Regions from separate parts of the Homo sapiens genome. Here region 1 is linked to region 2. The links come from fine-mapping of genetic effects on plasma protein levels. A gene starts in region 2. The other region holds a variant in brackets. All regions are shown on one strand. Distances are from middle to middle.

What was found. PIP is the posterior inclusion probability: the model's chance that the variant is causal. Protein levels are from antibody-based Olink assays in UK Biobank. Linkage for the fine-mapping came from a reference panel and not from the study's own genotypes, which makes the PIPs less certain.
Region 1: its variant is fine-mapped to the plasma level of the ACAN protein (UK Biobank, PIP above 0.99). The variant lies in the coding sequence of ACAN. If it changes the protein, the assay may bind it differently, which can mimic a change of level.

The regions. Positions count from the first base shown.
Region 1 is chr15:88,843,973-88,846,878 of GRCh38, reverse strand. ACAN (aggrecan) reads right to left here. Exons shown (of 19, transcript NM_001369268.1): 7 at 997-1,374. Among named protein-coding and RNA genes, the nearest start is that of ACAN, 42 kb to the right of the region's middle. The variant A/G (reference allele first, on the strand shown) is at 1,060.
Region 2 is chr15:88,802,206-88,805,111 of GRCh38, reverse strand. ACAN (aggrecan) reads right to left here and starts at 1,676. Exons shown (of 19, transcript NM_001369268.1): 1 at 1,303-1,676. It overlaps LOC105370960 (a long non-coding RNA gene), which reads left to right and starts at 1,594. Exons shown (of 3, transcript XR_001751648.1): 1 at 1,594-1,662.

The sequences.
Region 1 (2,906 bases), 42 kb before region 2:
GAAAGAGCCGAATGGTAAATATTTTAGGCTTTGTGGGCTATGTGGCTTCTGTTACAACTACAGTTATCCTTCGGGATCCAGGATCTCCTCAGATACCAAAATCTGCAGAGTCTCAAGTCCCTGATATACAAGTGTAGTATTTGTATAAAAGCATCTCTAGATTACCTATAAAACCTGATACAACGTCAATGCTATGTAAGTAGTGGTTATATTGTATTGTTTTAAATCTGTATTACTTTTATTGTTGTATTGTTGTTATTGTTTCTTTTCTTTTGGAATATTTTCCATCTACGGTTGGTTGAATCCAGACATGAAAGACTGACTGTATTCAACCTCGCTGTGATTGTCCTCAGTTAGTCATAGACAACTTGTCCACAGATGGCTATGGCTTTGTTCCAATCAAACTTTATTTGTGGACATTGAAATTTGAATTTTATATAATTTTCATGTGTCACAAAATATTATTTTTCTTTTGACTTTTTGCCCCTAACTATTTAAGAATGTAAAAATCATTCTTAAGTCATGGGCCATATGAGAACAGCTAAACCCAGCCCACTGGCCACAGTTTGCTGGCCTTTGTCCTGGGAGGTCAGAGCAGTGAGAGGCCTCAGGGGTCATCCAAGGCAGTGGTTTTCTAGTGGCTCTGTTTTGTTGGGGTGTCTGATGGGGCAAGGAGGGGCCCTGGACAGAAGGAGCCCAGTTGTTCTCCACGCTACTTCCCTTAGAACTATGTGGCACATGTGCCTGCTTGATACAGAGACTGGATTCCACATATGACCTCATTTGAAATAAATCCCTGGTGGCAAGAGTGTGGACCTGACTAGTCTGGCCTATTGTTTTTGTTCCACAGATGAGGAGAATAAGGTCTGAGAGGAGAGAACATTGTCCCACGTGCCAGGTTAAGTAGAAGGTACAGCCTTCAACTGCGGGAATCCCTTCCCTGCAGGCCAAGTTCTCTCCACCTGCCCCTGGATGCACCCACGGGCAGCTACTTACCCCCTGGCAAATGCGGCTGCCCAGGGACAGCGGTCACCTGCACGACGAGGTCCTCACTGGTGA[A/G]TGCCGTGGCAGGGCCCAGGCCAGGTGTGGGAAAGCCCCAGGGCCTGGTGGCCTCTCCAGTCTCATTCTCAACCTCAGCGAAGGCAGTGGCCCCTATTTCAGGGGCAAACGTGAAGGGCTCCTCGGGTTCCAGGGGACTGGGGGAGACCTCGAAGATGGGCTTTACGGTAAGGATCACGCTGCCTCGGGCTTCACCCTCAGTGATGTTTCGAGGCAGTGGCAGCTCCATGTCAGGCCAGGTCACTGTCTGGACGGTGATGTCCTCCTCACCCCCCACTCCAAAGAAGTTTTCTGGGATGTCCACAAAGTCTTCACCTAGGGGAGGGGCAAAGACAAGCTTTAGCCTCTCAGCCTGGGACCGGCTTGAGGGGGATGAGGAGTGGGCTGGAGATGAGCATGGCTCCCCCTCCTTCCCTGCTGGGGCAGGAGGGCACCACTGTGTGCCAGGCACCTTGCCAAGCCCATTTCAGGGGTACTCAGCTATCGGCATTCATTGTAGGAGTCCCCACAGTTTCAAGATTGCAAGAGTGCAAGAGCTATCAGAGGGCAAGATATTGACCAATGAGCTGACGGCTCATAAAGATCAGTTCCCACCCCAACAGCCCTTCCTGCTCAACACAGCTGCTGCTTCACTCGTCTCATGAGCACCTTACCAACCATCTGATGCTGTAACTATCCAACAGGACCAGGTAAGTCAGTTATAAGGAGAAATCAGAAAATCTTGCAGAAAGTGCAGTTTGTGAAGTTGATGAAGGTGGCTTTGGAGAACTGCCTGTCTCATAGTCATGGAAAAATGAGGGTACCATGAGAGTGATACTACTTCCAAAAGAGTGGTTAGAATACCAAAAGGTTAAGAGAGGCTTCGAGGGGGAAATCCCAGCTATTAACCCTCTTCCTGTAAGATCAGGTTGTGGAAATGAAACGTGTAATGAGTTGTCATTGTGTTATCACCACTTAGTACATAAAAGTTTTGCAACTCCTCATTCATGTGAGGCATTGTTTTTTCCTCCAAGAATTAGCATGTAATTATAATTATAACCCAAAATGTGTTAAATGTAAGATAAAAACTTATTTGAACATTTTGGTCTAATTTTTCAAAATAAAGTCCCCATCAAACTTTCCCCTACTCTTTTCAATAACATTTTGTGGCCGGGCGTGGTGGCTCACGCATGCAAGCCCAGCACTTTGGGAGGCTGAGGTGGGTGGATCACCTGAGGTCAGGAGTTCAAGACCAGCCTGGTCAACATGGTGAAACCCATCTCTACTAAAAATACAAAATTAGCTGGGCATGATGGTGCACACCTGTAATCCCAATCTACCTGGGAGGCTGAGGCAGAAGAATCGTTTGAACCTGGGAGATGGAGGTTGCAATGAGCTGAAATAGCACCACTGCACTCCAGCCTGGGTGACAGAGTGAGATTCTGTCTCAACAATAATAATAATAATAATAAAGTAAAATGACATTTTGCCCAGCCTGGGCAACATGACAAGACCCCATCTCTACCAAAAAAAAAAAAAAAAAAAAGCAAAGCATGGTGGTGCCTGTATTCCCAGTTGCATGGGAGGCTGAGGCAGGAGGATTGCTTGAGCCCAGGAGGCTAAGGCTGCAGTAAGCTATGATTACACCACTGAACTCTTGCCTTGATGACAGAGTGAGACCCTGTCTCAAAGAAAAACAAAAAAACAAAACACAACAAAACCCATTTTGACCCTCCTTTTAGACATATTCAATTTAAAAAGGCAGATAGCAGCACCCTCCCATGGGTGCCAGGGTCACATGTCAGACCCCCAACGTCTTTGCAGGCGGGCACCCCATCTCCTCACTAGACAGATGAGAAGAGTGAGGT
Region 2 (2,906 bases):
AAATCAGGACGAGGGACCGACTATGGCCTCAGAAAACCTGGATTCTAGTTCTGCCCTTGACCCTAAGTCACAGTTCAACCTTCAGAAATTCATTGCACCTTTCTGGGTCCACTTGCCCTCCTCTTCAGACGAGGTGGGTGAATTTTCAAGGTCCAGAGTCCCCTCTAAACTGTCAGACACCCACCCACTGCAGCACCCAGGACCCCAAAACACCGTGCTAACCCAATTCAGCTTTGTATTTTCCTCCTGGCAGCCAGCCCCACAGAACCAGAATTTACACATCAGTCAACATGCTGGAACTCCAGCTTCTTCATGGTGAAACCCTAGTAGGATCCTGTCAGAACCCAGCTCATGACTGAAAGGAGGATAATGATGGAAAAGTTTGGGTTGGATCCTGTCTCACAACCAGAGACAAGCCCCCACCCCCGCAGCTTGCTCTGCCCAGAGTGTGGTTCAGTTGACATACTGACAGCCTCCAACCCAGCCCCAGGGTTGGAAAGGGCTCCTGCTCCACCAGCATTGGCTTCGTTTGAAGAGGAACCCACAGACGGAAAAACCGCTCGTGGTCGTGTGTCCTCAACTCCCCTCCCCTTTCTTCCTTGAGAAATGCCCCTTCTTGGTTGGACACCCGTGTGTTCAGGGCACTGCTCTCCTCTCCCCTGCTGGCAGTTCAGTAGCTCTGTCCCAGGTTCTGCCACTCTCCCCTGGGCAGACTCTTCAGGCACTCTGGTCCCTGGAGTAAGCCAAGTGGCCAAGGATGGACTATCTAGCCTCGGCTTAGGACCCGCTGTGTCCCTGACATAGTGTCCATATGATTTCATTTATTCTTCCAGACCCCGCGAAGGCCTTTTCCCTCTCAGCTGACAGACGGCAGGCCAAGGCTCAGGAAGGTGAAGCACACCTTCCAGCTCAAAAGTAGCACCTCGGGGATTTGAACCCACATTCCCTTGACTCTGAAGCTGCTACTCTGTCAACCATGGGTCTTTCCAGACCCTAGGATTTAAAATCACCTAGGTGTTTGGAGAAAAGGCTCCCTTGTTCCTTCATCCTGGCGGACTAGGAGACAAGTGCCCCTCCTCACGTGTTCCTTTGCCCCATTCACTGAGTCTGCAACAGCCAAAAAGTTTGCTCAACTCCACCGCGGACGCAGCCGGTGGATGTGCTGCGCCCCCGGCACACATAGCTCTAGGGCGGAGACCAAGGCAGTGCAGCCCCCAGCCCCGGGGCGTGCAGTCTCAGTCCCGTTCCTGGCTCGCCGGGCGCCCTGGGAGAGCCTCGCTCTGGAGGGAAGGAGACAGTTACCTTGAAGAGTTGGACTCCCTTCTCCAAGAACTTCAGTCCCACACACCTGGCGAGGCAGCTGGGGGCTCCTGGGGCCGGGAGGCCCGGGTCTCGCTGCGTAGCGAGGGAGACGCTCTGCGCGGGCGCTGCGCACCCCTCCTCCTGCCGGCGTCCTGTCCGCAGGTCCCCTCGGGCTGTGGCCGCAGCGGCAACTGCTGGGTTGCGGAGTCCTGGCTGGCTGAGGGAATGGACACTGAAAGGTGCCCGGAGACCCTGGCACCCGCGTCAGACGCCGGCCGGCGAGGGTGCTGAGAGAGAGAGACCTTGAGCAGCGCTGCGCGCGTCCTCAGCTCTGCGAGCCCCCTCTGGAGCGGCGGGGAGGTAGGTGGGCGGGCGGGCGGGCATGGCGCGCTGTGACACATACATAGGGACGGGCGGGGGAGGGGAGGGCCCGTGAGGGGTGGGGGCGGGAGGGGGCGAGCGCAAAGGGAAACCCCACCCCCAGGGACCGAGGGGCGGCCGACAGGGGGAGGGGAAGGCAGAGGCGTCTGGAGCGCGCTGGACCCTGGCTCCGGACCGGCGCGCCGATGGGGAAGCCGGCCTGCGCTCAGGGCGGGAGAGGAGCGCTCCCCGGGGCGGCGCGGACCCGGCAGCTCCGGGGCTGGCGGGAGGAAGGCGGCGCGAGAAGGGCTGGAGGGCCCGCATCTGCATTGCGGTCGGCAGCTCCGCAGTCGGAGGGGCCCAGGAGGGCTGCACCCTCAGAGAATCCCCAAGTGCCCGGACTCTGAGGCCGCCGCGGCGGGACAGGGCTCCCGGGCGCCCGGCGGGGTTCTGCAGCTGAGGCTGGCCACGACGCGATCTAAGGAGGGTGCAGCCCGCTACTGTCGGCCACGATTTGGAACGACCCTCACCGAGGAGCTGGCTGAAAGTTTTTTTGGGGGTGGCGTACACCGGGATGGCAGGGGATGGTGGAGAGGGGGAGGTAAGGCGTCAGCGGGGAGGCTCACGGGGAGCTGCGAGTCTCTGGGTCTTCAAATTCCCCGGGAGAGACCAAGGACATCTCATATGAAGCAGGAATTCTCCAGTGTCTCTACAGTACTCTTTAATACCGTTTTCAGGAAAAGGAGAAAAAGAACTAGCAGCTTTTGAATCCCTCCTATGAGCCCGTTGTGTAACATACATTAACATTTCATTTAATTTTTCCAAAGAGCCCAACAAGGTAAATATGGCAACTTCCCACCTGCCCCTAACCAAAGATGTGAAAACTGAGGCTCAGAAAGTGGTGGAGATCCCTCTTGAAGGTGGGACTGAGTTCGAGTCCCAGGTCTTGTGCTCTCTGCTACACAGGCTGCTGGTTGAGCCACAGCACCTTCGGAGGACTCAAGCTGGCTGGTGACCTTCAGAGTTCTTGTGGAGGAAGCTGGTGGTGCTTCACACCAGGATGTGGTGGCCACAGTCAGGATGGTGGTGGAAGCTTCCTGACCCTCTCATTGGGCAAGAAGAGGAAGAAGTGGAATCTTTCGGGACTCCCCACTACAGAGATAATAGACCACACTTTAATCAGTTCCTTGATGAAAAGGAACTGAAGTGCCTCGGTTTCCCCAGGGCGACTCCACTGGAATTAT